4 linked regions of the Homo sapiens genome follow. The protein of the gene in region 4 purifies or fractionates together with the protein of the main gene of each other region. This does not show direct contact. Each region holds a gene or a part of one and is shown on either strand. Other genes may lie near its edges.

Region 1 (3,526 bases), about 32 Mb from region 4:
CTCTATGGAACACTATTGTTTCTTACCCTGCTCTAATACCTACCTGCTACTGCCCAATGCTTAGTTCAAGCATCCTCTACTCCCGGAATCTAAGGGGTTAAGTTGGGTGCTCTTTCTCTTACAAAAGACCTCCATGCTTACCTCTGTTCTTACACTATACAGTATTATAATGGCTAGTTTGCTTCTATGTTTCTGTGAGTTCCTTGTGCATTCCTTGAGCTGGGGTCTGTGTTCATGGTCCCTATAAGGCTCACCATCTAGCCAGAATGTGTGGCATATAGTAAATGCTCAGTAAACATTTGTTATCTAAAACAAATATATTTCTTGTCCTAATACTTTCCAGAGAAATAGTTGCTCCTATCCAGTTCTTTCTAGTCCTGAATTTCTCCCTCTTCTCCCATTCCAATCCCTGCATCTTGAATATATTAATAGCAGCTTCAAAATAACCATGTCATTCCAGGGCAATGTGGAATATATCCTTTACTTCTCTTTTACCTTTTCTTTTCTTCTTCTTTTTTTTTTTTTTTTGTAACATATCTAATAATGCATGTCCTGAAGGAATTTTCCTTTTTTTCTTTTCTTTTCTTTTTCTTTTTCTTTCTTTCTTTCTTCTTTTTTTTTTTTTTTTTTGAGACAGTTTTGCTCTTGTTGCCCAGGCTGGAGTGCAATGGCACGATCTCGGCTCACTGCAACCTCCGCCTGCTGAGTTCAAGTGATTCTCCTGCCTCAGCTTCCCGAGTAGCTGGGATTACAGGCATGTGCCACCACGCTCGCCTAATTTTGTATTTTTAGTAGAGACAAGATTTCTCCATGTTGGTGAGGCTGGTCTTGAACTCCTGACCTCAGGTGATCTGCCCGCCTTGGCCTCCCAAAATGTTGAGATTACAGGTGTGAGCCACCGTGCCTGACCTCTGAAGGAATTTTCTAATGAGGAAAAAAAATTTATAACTATTGTTATTCTTTTGGAGGTTAAAGTTTTACCTTAGTGGTATTATCCTTTACCATCTGGTAAAATTTGTGCTTAGATTTTTGAGTTTTGAAGTGTTTTCATTTTATTTTATTTGGTCCATTTTAGGCATTGTGTGGCTGCTCAATTAATGTACCAACACTGGATGGAAGAAACATACCTATGTCAGTAAATGATATTGTGAAACCCGGAATGAGGAGAAGAATTATTGGATATGGGCTGCCATTTCCAAAAAATCCTGACCAACGTGGTGACCTTCTAATAGAATTTGAGGTGTCCTTCCCAGATACTATATCTTCTTCATCCAAAGAAGTACTTAGGAAACATCTTCCTGCCTCATAGAATGAAGAACTTTGTTACACATATTTTGATAAGGCACTGAAAATATAAAAGGACTGGTAGTTTACTGATGTAGATGTGAATTCTGTATAAAGATGTGTAAATTCTTTTGAGGGTTCATTAAATTGCATGAATAGAGACGGGTCAAATAAATAGGCAAAAGGGATTTTTACAGTTAGAGATAAAAGAGAAAACCATTCACTGTATTTTATTTCATTTCTCCTGATTCAGATATTTTTAGTAATTTGCTTATATGTAAAAGTTGTTTTTGTGGAGTCAGTGGATATATTTCTAATGAAGTGCTAGACTATCCAATTACTTAATTTCTTATACCTTTAGATAATCAGTATGAAAAGTTCCCATTTATAATGGAAATGAAAATTCTTAACTAAACTATACATGTAATATGTATTTCTAGAAGAGAATAAAAACCCAAGTCAGTTATTAGATTTAAATCACCTTCTGAAATGCTGCTATAGGGCTGGTATCTGTAAAAGAATATCCTGATGCATCTGTTTCACCATTTTGATTTTTAAAGTATGCTGTAGCATTTCTTAATAACATCGTTGTGATGTTCTTAAGGCAGATCTTTCTTCATAAAAAGGAAAGTAATGGCAATTTCTCTCCTGTGGAAATCCCAATTGCTTGAATTACTGATATTTTAGAATAGACTTTTTAAAATGCCATATGTAATTTTATGCAAGTTGACTATATATCTTGTACTTAATAAATTATAGGCTCATTTTGTTCTCTGCTAGTTTAAAGTAATTCGTTTAATAATAGATGTGTTTTTAGAGGAAATGCTGTTACTTGGAATTAATTTTCCAGTTATACAGTCTTCTATAACTTACTAATAATATTCTATATGTACTTTATGTAATTTCCCTAAAAAGAATGAACTACCACTACACTATGGTGTTAAACCAAAATATAGGGAAAATAAACACTAACTGCTGCTTATGGATAATGTTGCAACTACTTGTTATGCATATAAATATTTTACTTTTTCACATGTATAGATTGCATTTCTTAGGTGTTTTAATTTTTTAAATATATTTATGTTTTAAAAATTTAGTTTTGTTTTCTGTTTTATAACTATAGTGAGAATGATGTTTTGAAGCAAAATTTTTGGTTATAAAATAGTTTTCAGGATTATATATATATATACTGGATCCTATCGCCTTTTAGTAGAATATGAAATATTCTTTTAGAAATCCAATATAAATAGGTTATAATAGCCATATTCTTTATTACTTTATTGAGATATAATTTACATGCCATAAAGTTTACCCTTAAAATATATAATTCAGTGGTTTTTAGTGATATTTACAAAGTGGTACAATCATCATCACTTTCTAATTCCAGAATATTTTCATCACCCCAAAAAGAAATCCTAAATCCATTAGCAGTTACTTCCCATTCTTCCCTTCCTCCAGCCCCTGAAAACACTACCATCTACTTTTCATCTGTATGGATTTGTCTGTTCTGGACATTTCACATAAATAGACTCAAACAATATATGGCTTTTTTTTTTTTTGGTCTGGCCTCTTTCATTTAGCTTAATGTTTTCAAGGTTCATCTATGTTGTATCACGTATCAGTACTTTATTTTTTGTGTGGCACGTCATATGGATATACCACAATTTGTTTATCTTTTCATTAATTATGGGCATTTGGCTTATTTCTACTTTTTTGGCTATTATAAATAATGCTGCTGTGAACATTTGTGTGCAAGTTTTTGTGTTTCAATTCTCATGGGTATATACCTAAAAGTGGAATTTCTGGGAGTAACCATATATTTGAGTTGCAAATGGAAAATGCTTGAAAAAAATGCCACAGAATTCAGCTAATCGTATTTATTACTCTAATTCATAAATGATTCCTCTATAACTGTCTCTCTGAATGACAGTTAAAACTCCCTACAGAAGTGTGAACATTACAGAAATTTTCTCACAAGTCTAAAGATCTAGATCTGAAAAGCATCAGTCAACGTGGTGAATGATAGTGGTTTCTGTTTTAAACCCATCATTATTTATTGCAATTTTCTTGATTAAGCATTTTCTCCCAGGTAAAATAAATGATTTATAGATAGATATATAATAATCTTTGGATTAAAAAGTTTTTTTAAGCAGAGAATTATTATTCTAGTAGTAAATAAATTTACATAACTACACAAAACCAGTATACCAGTATCTCTCTTATCTTAAAGGATATTGACAAT
Region 2 (7,329 bases), on a different chromosome or scaffold from region 4:
GACCAGCCACAGACTGGGAGAAAATACTTGCAAAAGACATATCTGATAAAGGACTATTATCCAAAATGTACAAAGAACTCTTAAAACTCAACAATGAGAAAACAAACGACCTCATTTTAAAATGGGGTTTTAACAGAAATGAACAGACACCTCAACAAAGAAGATGGACAGATGGCAAATAAGCATACAGAAAGATACCAACATCATAAATCATTAGGGAATTGCAAATTCAAACAATGAAATACTGCTATACGCCTATTAGAACAGCCAAAATTCAAAACACTACAACTGAAATCCAAAACACTAACAACACAAAATGCTGGCAAGGATGTGGAACAATATGAACTCATTTGTTGCTGGTGGAAATGCAAAATAGTATAGACACTTTGGAAGACATTTTGGCAGTTTCTTGCAAAACTGAACACACTCTCGCTGTATGATTCAGCAATTGTGGTCCTTGGTATTTTTTTTCTTTTTTTTTCAGAGATGGGGTCTCACTCTGTCACCGAGGCAGGAATCCAGTGGTGTGATCTCAGCTCACTGCAACCTCAACCTCCCGGGCTCAAGCAATCCTCCCACCTCAGCCTCCCAAGTAGCTGGGACCACAGGCACATGCCACCATGCCCAGCTAATTTTTTGTATTTTTGGTAGAGTCAGGTTTTCACCATGTTGCCCAGGCTGGTCTCAAATTCCTGAGCTCAAGCGCTCAGTCTGCTTTGGCCTCCCAAAGTGCTGGGATTATAGGAGTCAGCCATGCCTGGCCTTCTCCTTGGTACTTATCCAAATAAGTTGAAAACCTATATCTACACAAAACCTGCACATTGATATTTATAGCAGTTTTATTTATAATTGCTAAAACTTGGAAGCCACCAAGTTGTCCTTCAGTAGGTGAACAGATAAATTCTGTGGTACATCAGCAATGGAATGTGGTACATCCAGCAATGGGATATTATTCAGCACTAAAAAGAAATGAGGTATGAAATCATGAAAAGACATGGACAAGCTTAAATGCATATTAGTAAGTGACATAAGGCAATAAGAAAAGGCTACATACTGTGTGATTCCAACTGTGTAACATTCTGGAAAAGGTAAAACTATGGAGACAGTAAAAGTAGCAGTGGTCGTAAGGATTAAGATAATGTAAAGCATTTTGTAAACTGAAAAGTAAATGAAATACCATCCCCATAGTGTTTTGGGCTTAAGAGTCTGAGGCTGGATAACTCTTTCTGTATTTTCCTGTGCTTCATAAAATTTTGGGGTGGAAGGTTAAATGGTATTTAAGAAATCCAAACATTATATTCAGAACCCCTAAGTTCCTAAATGTGCCACATTTACTGCTTTTTTGAAATGACAAAAGAAGAAAATCTTTAGAAGAGAGAGAACTCCATAAACTTAAGATTCCAAGTATGTCCAGAGCAAGACATCCAGTGTGGCTTTCCTGTTATTCCAGAATTGTGGCTGAGAACAAAAGGCACTGAGTCCACCTCCTTCTAAGAACAGTGAAGCAGCCTGAAGTTGACAGCAACCACCAGATGCAAAGCAGGTTCACTGTGCACTGGTTACCGGTTCAGCCCACTGCATTTTGGACTGCACTTTTCCTATATCCAGTGTCCAGTGACGCAGAACACTCACACACAAGTTACACGAAGTGGGTTTATTACTTACAGACAGGCAGCAAGGGACAACAGAAGCATGTCATAATGACCATATCTCCCAAGGCCGAGGAAAACTTCTTAGGGAGGATGGCGTCTCATCTGCTCGTGCACTGCTTGCACCGCAACTAAGGGACCCCAGAAAGCAGTCTGCTCTCAGTTTTTACTACAGGGCAATGGGATGTGCTGGGCTAGTACTAGTTGAAGGACATCCTATTTCTAGAAGAGACTGGAACAGAGCCTGGGCTGTTCTGGTCAGTTCCTCCTTGTCTATAGTATATTGCATTCCAACACATTCTACAGTTATTCTCGAGAACTACAAGTGAGAAAAGGGGAAGAACTGTGTTGGTTCAAGGCCCCCAGAGAACTGTTCTGTATGAGACCCTCCATCCCTAGCCTACTGACAGCTGACAGAGAAGAAAAGTGGGTACCGCCGCCCCACCACTCTTTAGGAGGCTGAACATCCTGGGAGCTAGGGGACCTGCTACTAGGAGGAAACTCTAGGAGGAAAGCAAGCAAATGTCTGGGGAGAGACGCCAGGATCTGCATGTGAGTGTGTCAGATGGACATGTGGCTAGAATCCTTTTGCTTAAGTTTGCAATTCAAAGAAATACAGGGGCCGGACGCAGTGGCTCACGCCTGTAATCCCAGCACTTTGGGAGGCCAAGGCGGGCGGATCACCTGAGGTCAGGAGTTCAAGACCAACATGGTGAAACCCCGCCTCTACTAAAAACACACAAAAAATTAGCCGGGCGTAGTGGCGGGCACCTGTAGTCCCAGCTATTCGGGAGGCTGAGGCAGGAGAACGGCGTGAACCCGGGAGGCGGAGCCTGCAGTGAGCTGAGATCGCACCACTGCCCTCCAGCCTGGGCGACTGAGCGAGACTCCGTTTCAAAAAAAAAGGAAAAAAGAAATACAGAAGATAGAGCCTGTTTGTGCCTGCACACCTGAGAGCAGGCCACGGGAACATGAGATTGATGTCTTTAATCTTGTCAGAACGGATAGACATTGGGGCAAAGAAATGAGTACGGTAGAGAAATGTGGCAACATAGTCGGCATGGGGGGTGGGGTGGGGTCTGCAGAATACGTGGCCAAATCTCAATGGGACACTGGTGTCTAGGGAGCTTCCTTAACAAGCATCATGTAGCTGCATAAACTACAGCAATGGGCAGTGAGGAAGAAGACTGTAGGCTTCCCTGATCATGGCCTTTCGCCTCTCCTTCTTTGTCCATCATCAGAGGAGCTACCGCAGAGGAGACCTGGAGAGAAAGAAGTGTGTGAAGGGTGTGCCTGGTGCCCAGCCCTCAGTTCTTCAGGCTGCACTGCCAAAGGGAGGAAAATTGCACTGCGAAAGGGAGATGGACATGAGATTCAACTTTTAAAGTAAAGTTAAATGAGTCTTAGAAACCAAAATGAGACTAGTTGAAAAAGTGACAATGTTAGAAAAATTAAGTCACATAGCCAAGACGTGAACAGATGTTTCCCAGGGGGAAAAAGAGGCTTTAGCGAACAAAGAATAGGTAGGTATTACAAAAACGCAACTGTTTACACACACACACGTGTGTAAATATGTGTGTATACGTGTGTATGTGTACAGTTGCATTTTTGTAATACCTCCCTAATCTTTATATATATACTTATATAAATATAAATGCAAATAATATAAATATTATTGTTGCACACACACATATATATGATGATAGAGGATGTAGCATGTAGGATAAACCTTGAGAAATGGGTTGGAATGTCGGCAATACCAAGTCGGGAATCAGGAATTCAGGAGAAGAGCTTGAACAAAAAGGGCAAAGACAGTACAGACTTACCGCGGGGAAGTACAAAACCATTCTAGAGGACCACGTCGAAGTCCACATGGACAGAAACATTAGGGTGTTAAAGGGGATGATAAGGCTTGGATGGGCAGTTTGCTTCAAATAGTGGCGGTCATTGAAGTCAGGCACAATTTCTATTTTTTTTCCCCACTGTAAACCTAACCCACGGCGGTTGGTCAAAGTCTTGCCGAATAAAAAAAAAAAAAAAAAAAAAGAATTAAGTGACTGGACTGCCAAGCTGTAGAGCCTCTATTAAGCAATGTACAGCCAGGAAAGGATACCTTAGATGAGAATGACATGGGTAGAGGGGTGTTTCAGGAACATGGCTAAAGAGCCTCGCTCCCAGCCTCAGCCGGGAGGCTGAATAAAGGACAGTAGCAGGATCACTCCAGCCTTTGAGGACACTTTTGGAAACCCTGGTGGATTCCCAGCATCAACACTTACTGAGGGCTGCTTTCCATCCCTAGGTTCTTTCCGGCATTTGTAATTTCCAATCCACTTAGGACACTTCTACTCCTCAGAAACCGTTTCTGTCGGGGCCGTGAGAGGAGACAGTATAAGACTTCCTGGACCCAAGGGACGCCGGGTCCCCTGGAAGCGCCCATCGCATTGAAGACCACGTGTGCCTTGCTGGGGTCCCATTCAGACAAGTCCCGGGTCGTTCGCTCATCGCCCTCCACGCGACCAGGGGGCGCCCGCGGTATCGGCCCGGCTAGTTCGCAGGCGTGCGCCTTCCCTCACTGCGCCGGAACGGGCCACGTTCTCGGACCCAGAAGCCGCGTCAGAATTCCACGCTGGCCAATCGGAACTGTCCATGTACTACTGGGGGCGGGGCTGCCAAGGGAGGAGGAAGATGGCGGCGGGGGCGAGGTGAGGTGTTGGCAGTGGAAAGGGGTTCGGGCTCGGGGGGCGGGGGGACGCGGAGCGATGGCCCGCGCCGGCCGCAGGGGCGGATAAAAAGCCGTCGCGCTGCGGGAGTGGGCGGGAGGGAGAGGGGGTGTCTGAGGGCCACAAGAGTATGACGGGGCTGTACGAGCTGGTGTGGCGGGTGCTGCACGCGCTGCTCTGTCTGCACCGCACGCTCACCTCCTGGCTCCGCGTTCGGTTCGGCACCTGGAACTGGATCTGGCGGCGCTGCTGCCGCGCCGCCTCTGCCGCGGTCCTAGCGCCGCTCGGCTTCACGCTCCGCAAGCCCCCGGCAGTCGGCAGGAACCGCCGTCACCACCGGCACCCGCGCGGGGGGTCGTGCCTGGCAGCCGCACACCACCGGATGCGCTGGCGCGCGGACGGTCGTTCCTTGGAGAAGCTGCCTGTGCATATGGGCCTGGTGATCACCGAGGTGGAGCAGGAACCCAGCTTCTCGGACATCGCGAGCCTCGTGGTGTGGTGTATGGCCGTGGGCATCTCCTACATTAGCGTCTACGACCACCAAGGTGAGGCCCGGTGCGGTGGTGGGGGGTGGCCGAGGCGTCTTGGACCGCTAGACCGCTGGTCTGGCGGGTGGTGCCCATGGCACGAGTTGCCGCGGCCTCTCTGCAAATCACAGCGCTAGCGCTTTCGAGGAAGGGAGATCAGCTTTATTGAACACCTACTAATTCTCTGGATTTGACTCAGTAGCTTTTTAACATTTTAAAAATATCCCTTGGCCGGGCGCGGTGGCTCATGCCTGTAATCCCAGCACTTTGGGAGGCCGAGGCGGACGGATCACCTGAGGTCGGGAGTTCGAGACCAGCCTGACTAACATGGAGAAACCCCGTTTCTACTAAAAATACAAGTTTAGTCGGGCGTGGTGGCATATGCCTGTAATCCCAGCTACTAGGGAGGCTGAGGCAGGAGAATCGCTGGAACCCGGGAGGCGGAGGTTGTGGTGAGCCGAGATCGCGCCACTGCACTCCAGCCTGGGCAACAAGAGCGAAACTCTGTCTCAAATAAGTAAATAAATAAATAAAAATAAATAAAAAATCTCTTATTCGTTATAATACTGCAGTAATGTAGATGGTATTTGTATACCCTTGCCAAGGTTTAAAAACATTAACTGATTTGCCCAAGGCCACAAGATCGTAATGGGGCCACAAAGATCGGAATGAGGATATTGGAATTTTAGCCATTCTGTGCTTTTTCACAATCTTTGCCTTTGGTTACACCACACTGTTTCTTTAAGAGAGCTTCCAGGCGCTGTTCTTAAGTCGCAGTGAGGCTATAGAGGACTTAGGCATGGGCTGTGTGATAGGTACTGCAAATGGGAGCGGTGGGGGTCAGGTGGTATTTGAACTGGGTTTATGAAAAATATGTGAGAGATTGGATAGGCAGAAAAGAAAATGGTCCCTTTCTGTCTTGGAAGGCTGGGATGGTTTGTGATCCTTCATCATCAGTGCCCAACACAGTACTTGATAGAATTGTCCTCTCATATGTTTTGATTGAGGGAATGAATTTCACCATAGGGAGTTTTTGTAAGTACAAAAATTCAGTACTTATTGGGTAGCTACAAACCTAAAGCACTGTGCTAGGCATATTCCTTGGAATCTTGCATTTAATTCCATGGACTCTCAGGCTTGTTAGGAGGTAGGCACACACTCACATATTTGACATGGTTAATAACAAGAAGTGTTGAGAGTAAAATTACTATTGTGAGAAGAGAGGAGAGAAATTGTGAATGAAGGAACTTGAGAAGTTCATGCAGTGGAGGTGGGATTTAAGCAGGACCTTGAAGAATAGGTAGGAGATAAGTTGAGGAATACTCAGGTTTGGGATGTCAGGTTTGATTTTCAATCAGATCTTGAAAGCATTGGAATTTCTTTAAAGATGTGAGAAGAATGATTTAAGAGTATTGGTATGAAGGGAAGAAAACAAAAGTTTTATTCTCTGTTCAATAAATTACCTGTGTGCTCTAGAGAGGCATACATCTTTGTCAGATTGGTAAATTTAAGTGCAGGGTTTTGTCAGAAAGGGAAGGCATAGGCCAGACAGTAACGCTTACAGGCTGATCTCTGATTGCCCTATCATCTTTCCTGCAGCCCGCAAGGAACATGATGACGCAGTAGCCTGTCATCACCAAATGATGATTTGCCCTATAGGGTAAAGTTTGATATATTCAGAGACTGACATTTATGGAACTTGCTAAAGAACTCAGCAGACCAATAGAAATCATGAGACTGTTAGGAGATGACACAATCCATGCCTAAACCAATGCAACCAGTTTTGCTTGGGGAAAAAAATAGGTGAAGCAAAAGTGGACATAAAGGCATTAAGCAACGTGGTGGATTGATGTACAGCCAGGTGATTCTTTTAAAGCAAGTATCTTTATCTTCCAGTAGGGAAGGAAAATGTATAGCTAAATTGTTTGACTTGATGACCGTGCCTACTAGTACAGACTATAATGTTGCCACATTTCCTTGTTTCTGCAAGTCCTGTGTTTAAATTGCTGATGTGATTCAGAAGTATCCTGTGTCATAGTTGCTAAAAGAAAAATGATTAGTAATTAAAAGGAAGAAGTAAGCTAAGCCAAGTTTTGGCTGAGAACTGAAAGGCACCTTAAGGAGCATTTTCAGTGAAAGGGCTTACAGGATTTTGTATCTTAACTGTAAAATCAGTTTTTTTGTTTGTTTTTTTTAAAAGAATAAGAAATATTCCTGAAATAAGAGACCTTCAATTAGTCCATTCTTGGTTTTGATTCGTTCATACATTCATTTACAGGTGACAGTTGGGGTCTGTTAAGTACCAGATACTCTTCCAGACATGGGAATGCAGCAGTGTACTCATGGAACTTAGATTTCAGTGGGAGTCTGACAAATAATATACGTGGGTAAATATGTGGTAATGTAAGTGCAATGAGGAAAAGTAAAGCAGAG
Region 3 (6,863 bases), on a different chromosome or scaffold from region 4:
TTCCTCATAGGTGGGGCCCAGGTTCATGCTCACTGGAATAGACACATATTCTAGATGTGGATTTGCCTTCCCTGCCCTTCATCCTTCTGCCAGCACCACCATCTGTGTACTCACGGAATGCCTTTTTTTTGGCATTTGCACAGCCTGGTGTGTGACCAAATAACTCATTTCACAGCAAAGGAAGAGAAGCAGAGGGCTCAGGTTCACGGAATTCAAGGGCCTTGTCATACACCCCATTCCTGGTACCAATTCTAAAACATTTCATCCTCATCACCACCCCCTTCCACTGCTGAGGTAACATATTCCATGCCTCACACTTTCATTAGTAGCTTTGTTTCTTCCTAGGTCCCCCTGCAACTTTACAGAATAAGGAGAGACAGAGGAATTGGGGCCTTCTCCATGCAGGTCTCTGCCCAGCCCAGGGCCAGGAAACCTTGTATCCCAAGAAACAAGCTACTTGGAATCACAGCATGTCTGATGAAAGGCCCTCCCAAGTCATTTAGTCCAAGCTCCCATTTTACAACTGAGGACACAGGCCAAGAAAACGGAAGTGGCTTGCCCAGAGGCCCATGGTGAGAGAGTGACAGTCCTGTCCGCTCTAGCTCCCCACCCTCTCTTGGGAGTTTGGATCTGCGGGTTGGGCTACTCCAGAGAGAGCCCACAGGGCTGAGGGTCCTGTTGTCCATCCCTGGGAGCAGGGTGCCTGCATGTCTCTTAGCTGGCATCCCTTCCCCCGCTTCTGGGGTCCTCCAGTCCCCTTCTCCTCAGATACTCCACTCCCAGGCAGGGCCTCAAGGTCACTCGTCTCCTTGCAGTCAATCTCCCACCCTTGGCTGCCTCACTTCCTGGGCTTACACTGCACTCTGCCCCCCGCCAGCATTGGCTCCAATCTTTACTGTTTCTTTACCCACCCCCTAACCCTCCTCACCCCAAAGCAGCAGAAGGCCCCTGGCTGGGCTGAGCTACACCCACCCACGTTGAGGTAACATCCTCCAGCTCTTGTTCCTTCTGCGATAACCAGGGGTTACCCCATGGAAGAACACACCACAGGGAACTGGTTACCCACCAAGTTTGCAAGGGGGCTCCGGCTCCCACTGATGGAAGGCTAGGATGTGGATATTTGTAGGGAAGCAGAACTGTGTTCTAGGTGGGGGACAAGCGTGAACAAGGACCTGCATCTGGTTGGAGTGTGTATGTTGAGGGGTGACTAGGTCAGTGGGGTGAAGGGTAGGGAGAAAGTGGGGACAGGGCAGGCAGAACATGGAGCCAAAGACCTGGCTGATTACAGGGTGCATCCTTGCAACCCTGTTGTTGGGGCTGACAGATGGGCTGGGACAGTCACAGAAATGGAGAAGCAAGCCTCTTCACGGGCACCACGGGGCTTCCACAGTGCATTTTGTAGCTTATGAAGAGTGCTTTCCCACATATGAAAAAACGTTAGTAACATATCCAATTAGTGATCCTTTATCCTTGGGCGATACATTCCAAGATCCTCAGTGGATGCCGGAAACCTCAGGTAGTGCTGAAAACATACTGTGTTTCTTCAATCTGATAACTCTGAGGCCTACTAAGTGACTAACAGGTGGTAACATTTACAGCGTGGGGAGGATTCATATCCAGGGAGGGATGGAGAGGAAGGGCAAGAGATTTCATCATGCTACTCAGAACAGCATGCAATTTAAAACTTATGAACTGTTTATTTCTGGAATTTTCCATTTAATATTTTTTTGGACCTCGGTTGGCTGAAGGTAACTAAAACCTCAGGTAAGGGGAGACTACTATAGACCAATGGAACAGAACAGAGAATCTAGCTACGTGCAGTGGCTATTGCCTGTAAGCCCAGCACTTTGGGAGGCTGAGGCAGGCAGTTCCCTTGAGCCCAGGAGTTCAAGACCAGCGTGGGCAACATGGTGAAACCCTGTCTCTACAAAAAAAAAAAAAAAAAAAAAAAAAATTAGCTGGGCATGGTGACACACCCCTGTGGTCTCAGCTACTTTGGAGGCTGAGGTGGGAGAATCAGTTGACCCTGGAGGTTGCAATGAGCTGAGAAGGCACCATTGCATTCCAGCCTGGGCAACAGAGAGAGACCCTGTCTCAAAAATAAATGCATAAATAATTTTTTAATGCTTAAACTTTTACTTTTCTTATTTAGGTCTTTAATCTATATGGAATTCATATTTTGTATATGATGTGTATGTAATAGGGGTCTAATTTCTTCTCCTAATGGTTAATTCAATTTCTTAGCACAATTTACCAAACAGTCCATGCTACTGCCTCCTTGTATCTCCACAAACACAATGTTTCCTCTGATGTACACCATCTTTAGATGTGTGGGTCAGTTTCTGGCCTATTTCATGTTCCATTTGTCTGTCTTTAGGCTGATATCGGGGGCTGTCTTATATACCCGTCTCACACTTCTTCAGGAGCAACTTGGTCATCCCATATCAGTGTTCCTACAGGTGTTCACTGTAAAATTCTTTCAATTTTTCTGGAGAAAAAAGAGTGTTGTGGCTCATCTGGCCCAGGTTGGAGTGCAGTGGCACCATCTCAGGTCACTGCAAGCTCCGCCTCCCGGGTTCACGCCATTCTGCTGCCTCAGCCTCCCGAGTAGCTGGGACTACAGGCGCCTCCCAACATGCCCGGCTATTTTTTTGCATTTTTAGTAGAGACGGGGTTTCACCTTGTTAGCCACGATGGTTTCGATCTGCTAACCTCATGATCCGCCTGCCTCAGCCTCCCAAAGTGCTGGGATTACAGGCGTGACCCACCGCGCCCTGCCCACCATACAATTTTTAAAGGCTCAGGTTTCAGACTGAGCCAGCTCCCAGCAGCCCCAACCCTTGGAGAAACGGACAAGTTTTAGAACAGTAGTGGAACTTCCACATTCCAGTAGACATTTGAGTTATTTGCTGGGGGTGAGGCAGTGTTGATTGTACATGGTGCTTATTTATTTATTTATTTATTTAGAGACGGAGTTTCACTCTTGTCGCCCAGGCTGGATTCCAATGGCGCGATCTCGGCTCGCCGCAACCTCCGCCTCCCGGGTTCAAGCGATTCTCCTGCCTCAGCCTCCTGAGTAGCTGGAATTACAGGCATGCGCCACCACGCCCGGCTAATTTTGTATTTTTAGTAGAGACGGGGTTTCTCCATGTTGGTCAGGCGGGTCTCGAACTCCCGACCTCAGGTGATCCGCCCGCCTCGGCCTCCCAAAGTGCTGGGATTACAGGCGTGAGCCACCGCGCCCGGCCTATGGTGCCCATTTCACAGATGAGGGAAGTGACCCAGCCTCTCGGTCCCACTGAGGCACTGAGTCCCTGCCTGCTTCGTTTTGCCTTGCCCCCCAGCCCCTTTCCCCTGCCCCTCTATCTCCCCTGTCGGCTTCCCACGCCAGTCTCTGGTTCTCTGCCTCCTGCTGTTTAGTGGGGTCGAGACAGGGAGGACCGGGGAAGAGAGGGATGTGACTTGGCCCTGGCCACCCCGTGGGTCCACGGGGCTGCCGCAGAACAAGGGCCTGCCACCAGGCCCCTTAGACATCCCTTGCTCCTGCCCTTCTCAGGCTCTGATCGTGTCTCTGCTCCCCCAGGTCGCCCTTTCCAACTATTTTCCTGTCTGCCCCGCTGACGCGTCCGCTGCCGAAGCACCTCCTCTCTCTGACTTTCCGCCTTCCCGCTGCGACCCCGGTTTTGCCCCTCTCCAGCTCCCTCAGCCGCGGGCACCTGAGCTCTCCGCGGCCACCAGGGGGCGCCCGCGGCCCAGTCTGGGCGCGAGAGCCGCCAAGCGCCCACTCCGTTCCTCCTGGTGCCCCGCCCCGTCCGGCCGCGGCCCCGCCCCTCCCGGCGCCCCGCCCCGTCCGGCAGCGGCCTCGCTCCCTCCGATCCCCCCCGCGCCCGGGACCCCTGGCCCCACTGTTGGGCCAGCTCGCCGGGTCCGGCCATGGGCCCCGCCGCTCGCCCCGCGCTGAGATCGCCGCCGCCGCCTCCGCCGCCGCCTCCGTCTCCGCTGCTGCTGCTGCTGCCCCTGCTGCCGCTGTGGCTGGGCCTGGCGGGGCCCGGGGCCGCGGCGGACGGCAGCGAGCCGGCGGCCGGGGCGGGGCGGGGCGGAGCCCGCGCCGTGCGGGTGGACGTGAGACTGCCGCGCCAGGACGCTCTGGTCCTGGAGGGCGTCAGGATCGGCTCCGAAGCCGACCCGGCGCCCCTGCTGGGCGGTCGTCTGCTGCTGGTGAGCGCTGCTGAGCCATCTGGCCGCATCACTAAACCCCTCTCTCAACCCTCCCTAGAGACCCCGCACCCTGAACCGACGTTCATCCTCCACCAAGCCTTGAGAGTCCAGCGCCCCTCCCCAGGCTCCCCAGGCCCCCAGCATTCCGGCTTCCCAAACCAGAGAGCCAGATGCTCTGGGAACTCTGGCCTTGGCATCCACTGTGATGACCCCGGCTCCCTCCCCCACCACACCCTACCTCCCTCTGCTCATGGCCCCTTGCCACACAGATGGACATCGTGGATGCCGAGCAGGAGGCACCAGTGGAAGGCTGGATTGCAGTGGCATACGTGGGCAAGGAGCAGGCGGCCCAGTTCCACCAGGAGAATAAGGGCAGTGGCCCGCAGGCCTATCCCAAGGCCCTGGTCCAGCAGGTGCAGGGGATGTCTATGGGGGAGGGGGCTGGAGGAAAGGATTCCAAGGCATCTGCTAGAGCCAGGCCCTCCTTAGATGGGCCCTTAAGAGCTTGCAGAGAAGCCCTAGGCCTGGTGGGTCAGGGCACCCCAGTTTGAAGAATGGAGTCAGTATGGCTTCGAAGCAGGGAGGTGAGAGGAGGCCAGAGAGAGGTTGAGAAGCTTGACCAGGCTCTGAGAGTATGGGATGGGGGAGCTGCTGCTGACGACCACTGCTGGGACTGCCCTGATAGGACCGGGGAAGGCACAGCGCATCTGGAAGGGAGGCAGGAGGAAGAAAGCAGTTTCCACCTTTGACCTCAAGGAGCTTATGGCAGTCTGTCCAGAGTTTTGCTCACTGCAGGGCCAGGAGCTAAGAGCAGCTAGGGCTGCAGGTGGTGAGACAGGTGTGCAGGCAGGGTATATGCTAGCCTCTCGCCTTCTATCCCTCTGCAGATGCGGCGGGCCCTCTTCCTGGGTGCCTCTGCCCTGCTTCTTCTCATCCTGAACCACAACGTGGTCCGAGAGGTAAATCGGACCAGGCCGTGAGGGTAAGCAAGCTGGGGAAAGGGGGACCCAGGCCTGCTGACCTCCTTGTCTCCCTGCAGCTGGACATATCCCAGCTTCTGCTCAGGCCAGTGATCGTCCTCCATTATTCCTCCAATGTCACCAAGCTGTTGGATGCATTGCTGCAGTGAGTTGGTATTTAGACTTCAAAGGACTGACCCTGGGTACAGAGAGCCCCTGGTTCTCCCATGGACTGAGGGGGCTTGGGACCAGGGCCTTACCTGTTAGCCTTTTTTTTTTTTTTTGAGATGGAGTATCACTCGTGTTGCCCAGGCTGGAGTGCAGTGGCGCAATCTCGGCTCACTGGAACCTCTGCCTTCCAGGTTCAAGTGATTCTCCTGCCTCAGTCTCCCAAGTAGCTAGGATCACAGTCATGTGCCACCACACCCAGCTAATTTTTTGTATTTTTAGTAGAGACAGGGTTTCACCATGTTGGCCAGGCTGGTCTTGAACACCTGACCTCAGTTCCACCTGCCTCGGCCTCCCAAAGTGCTGGGATTACAGGCAGGAGCCCCCGTTGCCACTGCTGCTGCTGCTGCCCCTGCTGCCACTGTGGCTGGGCCTGGCAGGGCCCGGCCTAACTGTTAACTTTTTTTTTTTTTTTTTTTTGAGATGGAGTTTCGCTCTGTCACCCAGGCTGGAGTGCAGTGGCGCGATCTCGGCTCTCTGCAAGCTCTGCCTCCCGGGTTCATGCCATTCTCCCACCTCAGCCTCCCAAGTAGCTGGGACTACAGGTGCCCACCACCATGCCCGGCTAATTTTTTTGTATTTTTAGTAGAGACGGGGTTTCACCATGTTAGCCAGGATGGTCTCGATCTGCTGACCTTGTGATCTACTCGTCTCGGCCTCCCAAAGTGCTGGGATTACAGGTGTGAGCCACCGTACCCAGCCAACTGTTAGCTTTAAGACTGCCCTCTCGGCTGGGAATGGTGGCTCATGCCTGTAATCCCAGCACTTTGGTAAGCCAAAGAAGGAGTATCACTTGAGTCCAGGAGTTTGAGACCAGCCTGGGCAACATGGCAAGACTCAGTCTCTACAAAAAAATACAAAAATTAGCTGGGCATGGTGGCACATGCCTGTAGTCCCAGCTAATCAGGAGGCTGAAGTGGGAAGATCACTTGAGCCCCGGGGGTAGAGGCTGCAGTGAGCTGTGACTGTGCCACTGCACTCCAGTCTGGGTGACAAAGGGAGACCCTGTCTCAAAAAAAAAAAAAAGAAAGACTGTCCTGTCCCAGGCTGAAAAATGGGTGAGGGGATGGGAAGGAGGTGCCAGAGCCTGGAGCTTGGAGCAAGGAAGTGGCTCTGTGGGCAGAGAGGACTGGCCCCAGCAAGGAGGAAGATGGACTTGCAGGCTTCCCTGGCCTGGCTGGTGTGAAAATTGGAAAAACCAATAGAGGGAAAAGGCCTGGGGCAAAGTGTAAGGCCAGCAGGGGCGACAGTCGTAGGTATCCTTTTCCTGCAGAGCTGGGGTGGGTGGGTCTGGGCCTCCCTTCCCAAGAGTCCTTCCATCTGGCCCCGGTGACTTCCCCTCCCAGGAGGACCCAGGCCACGGCTGAGATCACCAGCGGAGAGTCCCTGTCTGCCAATATCGAGTGGAAGTTGACCTTGTGGACCACCTGTGGCCTCTCCAAGGATGGCTATGGAGGA
Region 4 (7,450 bases):
CAAGAGTCCCTGGCTCGCAGAGGCAGTCACAATCTGACTTGGGCATCTCCCTTCCTGGCACACTCACTGGTGCCAGGCACGCTGCTGCATTCTTTAATTACATCATCTTAGGTGGGAAGAAACCTTGAGATGGGAGAAGACTATGCCTGTCATTCAACCACAAACCCTTACAAAGATTGATCCATGCCAGGCACAGTCCTGGCTGCAGAGCATAAAGACTCAGTGGGGATCTGCTCTCTGTCCCTGGGTCTGAGCTGCCTGGGTTCTGGGTCCCTCCATTCTGCCCAGGGCTGACCCAAGCAGGGAAGAATCCCTGGACTTCAGGAGCACCCAAGAGGAACCTGAGTTTGGCCTGTCTCTCCAGACACCTGCTTCCCCTTTCCCCAGGATATTGCTGGAGGGGACTGGGCCCATCAGGACTAATTAACTCCTCTAATGGAATGAACCAGTTTTTCCTGGAACTTAGCCCAGGTGGGAGCAATCTCTACTTTTCTAGATGGAGAAATGCTAAGTGTCAAGAGGTCTTGCCAGCCGGACCCTGGGCTAGCGTGCATGTGGCAGGCGCGGTGGCGGGAGTGTGCTGTCTGGATGCAGGCTGAGTTCCCAGCCCAGGAGCCTTAAACAAGGAGGCCTCTAGGGTCCACTCAGCTGGTGGCCCCCGTATCGTTCTCTGTCCTTGGCCCAACACCAGCCCTAGCTCCGTCTCTCAGAGTTCGCTGCTGCTGCTTAGGCCTGACATCCCTAAGCGGGGGGAAGGTGTCCATGAGCTAACACTCAGGTCCCCTCCAACCCTATGACTCCAGGTCCATAGTGTATGAGGCCCTGAGCCCTGCCCAGGCCCGAGCTTCTGATCTCTTCTCTTTAAGAGCTGGGCCTTCAAAGGCCACCTTTGAGCCCCAGATACAACTTCACTGGGATTACCACAGCAACCCAACCCTGCTTTCAGTCCTGAGGCAGAGCCATTCTACTGATCTTCACAAGACCTGAATTACTAGGGCTAGGTTCTCCCCAGAGCCCCTCCCCCACCAACCCCCCTCCCCCCAAAGAAGGCTCTCACATTTGATTTGGAGCCTGCAAGTCTCTGCAGGCTGCTTGGGGTTGGGGGAGGCAGGATGAAGTGAGCTGAGACGCAGACAGGAGGCTGCCAGCCTGCTCTTGCCTTCCCTTCTCTTGTTCCCCCATGAGCGGGGAGGCCCTATCACCCTCTAATGAGTCTGATAAAGCAATTCAATTTTCCAGGCTGGGAGAGAGTGAGGCATGCTGGGAAAGGATGCTGGCTCCTTGGCCTGGACCTGAAGGAGGGTCAGTCCCTGGCAGGAGCTAGAATACCAAAAAGGGAAAGTGTGAGCACCAATGGATAGAACCTTGCCTTGGCCTGGAGCCCCTCACCACAAACAGGTTTCAAAGAAGGAAGATGGAGAGGAGATTGGATGGCTCCAGTCATCCTAAAGAGGCTGAGCCCATACAAAGCTCCCAGTGGGGAAAGGGGAAGGGTAAACGGCTTTGATTTCAGGCTTTCAGCTTCCTACGGACAGGGTCAGCGTCGGCACTCAGAGGGTGAGGACCTTATTATGCGGGTGGAGGGGGGGCCTGGAAAGGGTGCAGGTGCTTGACAGCCTCCATCGGTGCCCCTTTAGAATCTCCCATGGCCCTCTCTTCCTATTCTTTCACCACACCCTCACCCCTGATGAGGGAAACCCGCTGTGGCTGACACCTTCTGTGAACTGGCTTTCAGACAGGTGCTCTTCCCTGACAGCCTGAAGAAGCCAGGGCACTAAGGAGAGGACAAAAGAGAAAAGGTGAAAATGAGGGAAAGAAGCTTGGGGAACTAGGAATTTCCAATAGTGGCTGCTTTGTGGTCTTGCTTAAGCCTGTCAGGTATCAAGGTCTTGGAGGAATGAAGAAGGGAGGGAGTAGGCAGAGTCCCAATGGCAGAGTTAGGCTAGAAGATGTACCTGAGGTCCTGGAATCAACAGGAAGCCCAGAATCAGCTGCCACCCCATCTGCCCACATCACAGCCCCCAGAGCTCAGGGCGAGGTCTGGAGCCAGGATGTTCTAGCACCACCAGAGGGCAGCACCCTCACATCCATGGTAGGCTGTGTCACAGTAGCCTGGGCAGGGGGCTCTCCTATCCTTCCCCGGCTCTGTGTTTTGAGGGAACACCAAGACCTCACACAAAGAAATGATGGGGACAAGTCCCATAGTGCTAACTGCAGCATATCGACTCCCTCAGAGAGGTACACGTAACAGGTGAGCCCAGAGTTCTAGAATAAACCTTCAGCAAGGGTGAGGCATTCTCTGGAGGCCTCAGGACTGAGGCTGAGCTCCCCTCTCCCGAGCTGGTCAGTGCACAGAGCTGGGAGTCCTGGCCCCATGCACCTTTACCCAGCTGCCTCTCTCAGGCTGGGCCCTCTGTTTTTGTCAGCTCTTCCTAGGTTCCTATGCCTGTGTCCCAACTTTCTGATCTTCCTCCCTTCCCTCTTGGCCTCCTTTTTCCCTGGCAGCTTTCTCCCTTTACCCATCTCCCCAGGTGCTCATCACTATCCACAAGCACCGCAGAGTGGAAGCACCAGTTGGGCAGATTTACTAGGATGAGTGGCTGTTTTATTCACTGATGTATTTCCAGTACCCGGAACTGCTTCTGGCATATCGTAGGTATTCAATAAGTGTTCATTGAGTTAATAAGTCAATCAGGGGTGGGATACTATGGGTTTTGTCCCCTTGCCTACTACACTCCCTTTGTTACAATTACTGAGCTCAGTCATCCTGATGAACGGAAAGCAGGGGAGAGACCCCAAGGGACTTTGCCAGGACACGGACCAGATAGGACTTGAAAGTTATTCATTACATTAATATTCTGTGGTTCTTTCTTCCTCACTCCAGTTTCTGGCCTGTCCCGGGTCTTCTCTTCCCAGTCACACTTGGGATATTTCTTTTCACTGCAGCAAACTCAAAGACAGCTAAACTCTGAAATACAAACATCAGTTTCGAGGAGCAGGGACTGGGCACAAAGGGGGTGCCAGTAAATGTGTGTTTCTGATTAACTCACCTCCCCTGCGTGTCAGTACAGATCATCAAAGATCATTGTCATTTTGGTTTTCTGGCCTCATTAATAATGAGACTTTTGCTTGTAAAAATCCCTTGCATTGGCACTGAGCTTTTAACCTTTCCTGAGACACACATAGGCCCTTGTCTTGTTTTTCTCAGTTGAGCTAGGTACTGCCTGATCTGGAACTGGGAAGGTGCACAGGTGTCCAGGGCAGGTGTGTCATTCACCTTTCATTTCTGCCTCAAGATCTCTTTACATCATCCAGACAGGCATGGAGGCTGCCTGAAGCTGTAAAAAAGAAAAAAAAACCCAATGGGGATTAATATGAAGATGTAAAATAGGTTCTGGACTTAACAAAAACAAATGAATCTGGAAATTGCTCTTGGGATAGGGCCAGTAAAGTCCTGTTGGTGCCTACGTTTTGGGTATGGCAGCTTCTCAATCACTTAGCAAACAGGTTCTCAGAGGCAGGCACTGTGGGAGCTATCAAGATGAAAAAGCACAATGCCGCCTGCAGGAGCTCAGGGTTAGGGAGGGGAGAGGAGACATATACACAGGCAAAGTCAAATTGTAATGGGTAGAATAAGAGTAGAAACAGGAAGGGGTCATGAGGCAGGACACGGGCATTTCCTATGTGGACCCCAGAGCAATGACGAGCAAAGGCTTTAACTAATGACTTTTCAGGGCCACCCACCCACTCCACATCCATAAAACATTTCGCGATGAACACAGCCAGAGCTACGGTTTCCTTCCATCCGGCACAAGAAGCGCTTCTCTGCCCAAGGCCACCCCGTCCTCCATTCCATCGCGGGGACTTTGGTGGCTGGGACAGAGGCGGAGAGCATCAAGACCATGGGTGTCTTGGGCTACGTTGGGCCTCCGAGGCGCAGGATGCGGGGCGGGGTGGTCAGAAGGCCCCAACACGGTCCCTGGGAAAGGAGAGGGCAGCCTGATCCTCGCGACAGCGTCTCTACCCTCTTTCTTCCTTGGCCTTCCGTCAGCCGCAGTGAAACGGCAACAGTGCGACCAGCTTGGCGGGGAGGGGGCGAGGGACGAAGCAAGAAGAGCCGGGCGGAGGTTAGAGGTCAGGGGTCGAGAGCGCTTCGGTGTCAGCGGGCTGCGGTGGGAGGAGCTGCGGGCCCGGGGGAGGCGCGGAGCAGGGCTGAGGGGGGCGGGAGGGGTTGCCGGCGGAAGCGCGCAGGGGCGGCGCGCTGGGCTGGGCACTGGCGGCGAGGAGGTGACGCGCTTGGTTGGGGCTCGGCTCCGGGGAGGAAGACTGCGCTCGGTCGCCAGGGCCTGCAGTGAGTCGGATCGGCCCCGCGCTGCGCCGCGCCCCGCCCACCCCGCCCCGCGAAGGGCGCGTCTGGGCGAGGCGGGGCCCCGGAGGAAAAGGCGCCACTGGGGCGTGGCGGCCGCTGCCAGCGCCGGAGGGAGACCATGAGCCCCTAGGGCCCCAGCCCACCGGCGCCGAGGCGCCCCCTCCCCTATGCCACCTCGCGCCCGCCCCCTGCCGCGCGCGAGCCAAGGCCGGCGCCCCGCCCGGAGATGGGCAGACGCGTAGATGGCGTGGCTCCCAGCGCCGCCAGATCGCAGGAACCAGGCGCCGGGGCGTTGCGCTGAGGCTCCCTCTCCGCGCGGCCCGGGAAGCCTGCAGGTGTCCTTGGCCGCTCGGCCGCCGCCCCCGGTACACCTTCGCCAGTGCCCAGAGCCCGGCTCCCCAGAGCGGCCCCGCCCCCCAGGCTCGGCGCCGCGCAGGACGCCCCGTCTGAGGCACCCCCGCCCCAGCGCGGCCCCCGCAGCGCTGCGCCCGGTCCGGCGCAGCTCCCAGCCGCGGACGCAGGACCCGAGGCTCGCTCCTGCGGGCGCGCTTGTTTTCCAGCTGCCGCCTCGCCCTGCGCAGCCCCCGCCCGCCCGGCCGCCGCTCTCTGCTCTGCCCCGCCTGCCTTCCTCGCCCGGCGCTGGATTTATGAATGGGGGGAAGAGGCCACATGCCGCCGCCGCCGCCTCGTGTTGACCGCAAGCAGCCCGGGCCCACGGAGCTCCGGCTGCCGTGAGAGTGTCGGCCTGGCCCCGGCAGCCGCTCGGAGGACTTGTTGCTGCTGCGCTGCCGCCGCTGCGGGGAAGCCGGCTATTCCGGGGCTTGGTGCGGTCTTGGAGCCGGAGGGTGGCCCGTGTGAGCGCGAGCGCCCCGGACCTTCGCGGTGCGCGTGGACTGTGCGCTTCCTCGTCTTTGGTCGGGGTGAAGGCGGGGGCGTGTCCCCGGCCCAGAGCGTTTGTGTGTCCCGTCGTAGCGGGGGACCGCGTGTGTGCTTGCTTCTACTTCCCCGGGTCCTCCCTCTCTGCGCCTCCCTCTCTCCGGAGCTTCCTGCCCTAACCCCAACCACCTGTGTACCGGAGAAATCCAACTCCTCCCGCTCCGCGTCCTAGGGGGATAGGCAGGGGCAAGCCCAAGCCGCAGAGGGGGCCGCCACCGCCTCCTGCCTCCTCTTCGTCTCCTCCCCCTCCCCCGTCTGACGCTGCCTCCTCGGGAAGGGTGTTTGGAGGGCAGCGGCCGCCCCAAGCCGGAGCCCCGCAGCGCTTCTTATGATCAGCTCGGTGTGTGTCTCCTCCTACCGCGGGCGCAAGTCGGGGAACAAGCCTCCGTCCAAAACATGTCTGAAGGAGGAGATGGCCAAGGGCGAGGCGTCGGAGAAGATCATCATCAACGTGGGCGGCACGCGACATGAGACCTACCGCAGCACCCTGCGCACCCTACCGGGAACCCGCCTCGCCTGGCTGGCCGACCCCGACGGCGGGGGCCGGCCCGAGACCGATGGCGGCGGTGTGGGTAGCAGCGGCAGCAGCGGCGGCGGGGGCTGCGAGTTCTTCTTCGACAGGCACCCGGGCGTCTTCGCCTACGTGCTCAACTACTACCGCACCGGCAAGCTGCACTGCCCCGCGGACGTGTGCGGGCCGCTCTTCGAAGAGGAGCTCACCTTCTGGGGCATCGACGAGACCGACGTGGAACCCTGCTGCTGGATGACCTACCGGCAGCACCGCGACGCCGAGGAGGCGCTCGACATCTTCGAGAGCCCGGACGGAGGCGGCAGCGGCGCGGGGCCCAGCGACGAGGCCGGCGACGATGAGCGGGAGCTGGCCCTGCAGCGACTGGGCCCCCACGAGGGAGGCGCGGGCCATGGCGCCGGGTCTGGGGGCTGCCGCGGCTGGCAGCCCCGCATGTGGGCGCTCTTCGAGGATCCCTACTCCTCCCGGGCCGCTAGGGTGAGTGGCAGGAGCCCGTGTCTCCCCATCTTGGGTCTGCAAGGGGTCCGTGGTGGGTGGTGGGTAGGGGCCGGGAGGAGCAGGGACCGAGCCTGACTTACCTTACCACCGCAGATTGTTCCCGCCTTCCTCTCAACCCCCCTCCGTGGCTCGCAGGGGAATTACACACTCCCACCCTCTCCCCTGCACGCTCCATCAGGAGATTGCACACACTTGACTTACTACTTGGACCCAGTCCCAGCTGCCTGCTTTGCCGCATCCCCTCCAGTGAGTGGGGTGCCCAGCTCAGCTCCTCCACCCCCTTCTTTGGTCTGCACAGGCTGCCCTATCTTCAGCTGCCCTCCACTCCACACAGGACTACGGTCCTGGAAGAGCTGGAATTTGGTCTTCTGATGGGGGCAGGCAGGGTTGAGAGGAAGGAAACTAGGGTGGGTTTTGTTAGATGCTTCCATGCCGTGCCACCTCATTTACATCCTCCCAGCAGCTCAGTGTGCTCACAACTATGCACTTCAGAGAGGAGGATATAGGCTTCAGCATCTTAAGCTCAGAAGAGGCAAAGCTGAGACCACAATCCGGCCTCCTTTCCAGGTTTAAGAAAGGCATTCTTTCTGCCAGGGAGGATACCATGCCCCTGAGGCTTCCTGCACACCTGGGATGTCCTGGCCTCAGCTGGGGTGAGAGGAGAATTAAACACGAAGGGCCTAGCGTTCTAGGCTCTGCAGGCTCCCACGGCCAGTGGCCAGCCACAGGCTTCCTGGTGATGATACCAGATTTTTGTTGCCGCTTCTTTTCTTTCTGCTGCAGCACAAACTGTCTTTCCAGAAAGCCCTGGTTCAGGTTACTGCTTGAAATGGGTGTATGAGGGAAGGGGGAAGCACAGGTTGATTTAGGCAAGACCTACCGCCTCCTCCCCAAGTAAATCCAGTTTCCCTAACTCCTTTAGGTGAAAGGGGAGAACGGGGGAGGTGCTTCCCCCATTATGCTTCGACAGCTAAAAAAAAAAAAAAAAAAAAAAAAAAATCCCTGAAGGATGGCTTTAGATTCTTTAAAGAAAGAAAACTCTGGGGGCTGGTGTCGGATCTCATGGTCAGCAGCCTAAAGCCTGGCTGGAGTCTGTCTGGGAGACAGGAAAGAGCAAT

Evidence for each region.
Region 1: the proteins of KCNC4 (region 4) and DNAJB4 purify together in Homo sapiens (affinity purification with mass spectrometry; 2 studies listed by BioGRID and IntAct, with this or other methods). This does not show direct contact.
Region 2: the proteins of KCNC4 (region 4) and NUS1 purify together in Homo sapiens (affinity purification with mass spectrometry; 2 studies listed by BioGRID and IntAct, with this or other methods). This does not show direct contact.
Region 3: the proteins of KCNC4 (region 4) and RNF215 purify together in Homo sapiens (affinity purification with mass spectrometry; 2 studies listed by BioGRID and IntAct, with this or other methods). This does not show direct contact.

What each region holds. Positions count from the first base shown.
Region 1 is NC_000001.11:78,014,939-78,018,464, forward strand, and holds the end of DNAJB4 (dnaJ homolog subfamily B member 4), read left to right. Parts: intron 1-1,075; coding exon 1,076-1,309; 3' UTR 1,310-3,026; downstream 3,027-3,526. UniProt on the Homo sapiens protein: Probable chaperone. Stimulates ATP hydrolysis and the folding of unfolded proteins mediated by HSPA1A/B (in vitro).
Region 2 is NC_000006.12:117,671,172-117,678,500, forward strand, and holds the start of NUS1 (dehydrodolichyl diphosphate synthase complex subunit NUS1), read left to right. Parts: upstream 1-4,297; 5' UTR 4,298-4,499; coding exon 4,500-4,914; intron 4,915-7,329. UniProt on the Homo sapiens protein: With DHDDS, forms the dehydrodolichyl diphosphate synthase (DDS) complex, an essential component of the dolichol monophosphate (Dol-P) biosynthetic machinery.
Region 3 is NC_000022.11:30,384,384-30,391,246, reverse strand, and holds the start of RNF215 (RING finger protein 215 precursor), read left to right. Parts: upstream 1-3,835; 5' UTR 3,836-3,933; coding exon 3,934-4,218; intron 4,219-4,487; coding exon 4,488-4,631; intron 4,632-5,105; coding exon 5,106-5,177; intron 5,178-5,257; coding exon 5,258-5,343; intron 5,344-6,751; coding exon 6,752-6,863.
Region 4 is NC_000001.11:110,205,867-110,213,316, forward strand, and holds the start of KCNC4 (voltage-gated potassium channel KCNC4), read left to right. Parts: upstream 1-4,447; 5' UTR 4,448-5,633; coding exon 5,634-6,311; intron 6,312-7,450. UniProt on the Homo sapiens protein: Voltage-gated potassium channel that opens in response to the voltage difference across the membrane, forming a potassium-selective channel through which potassium ions pass in accordance with their electrochemical gradient.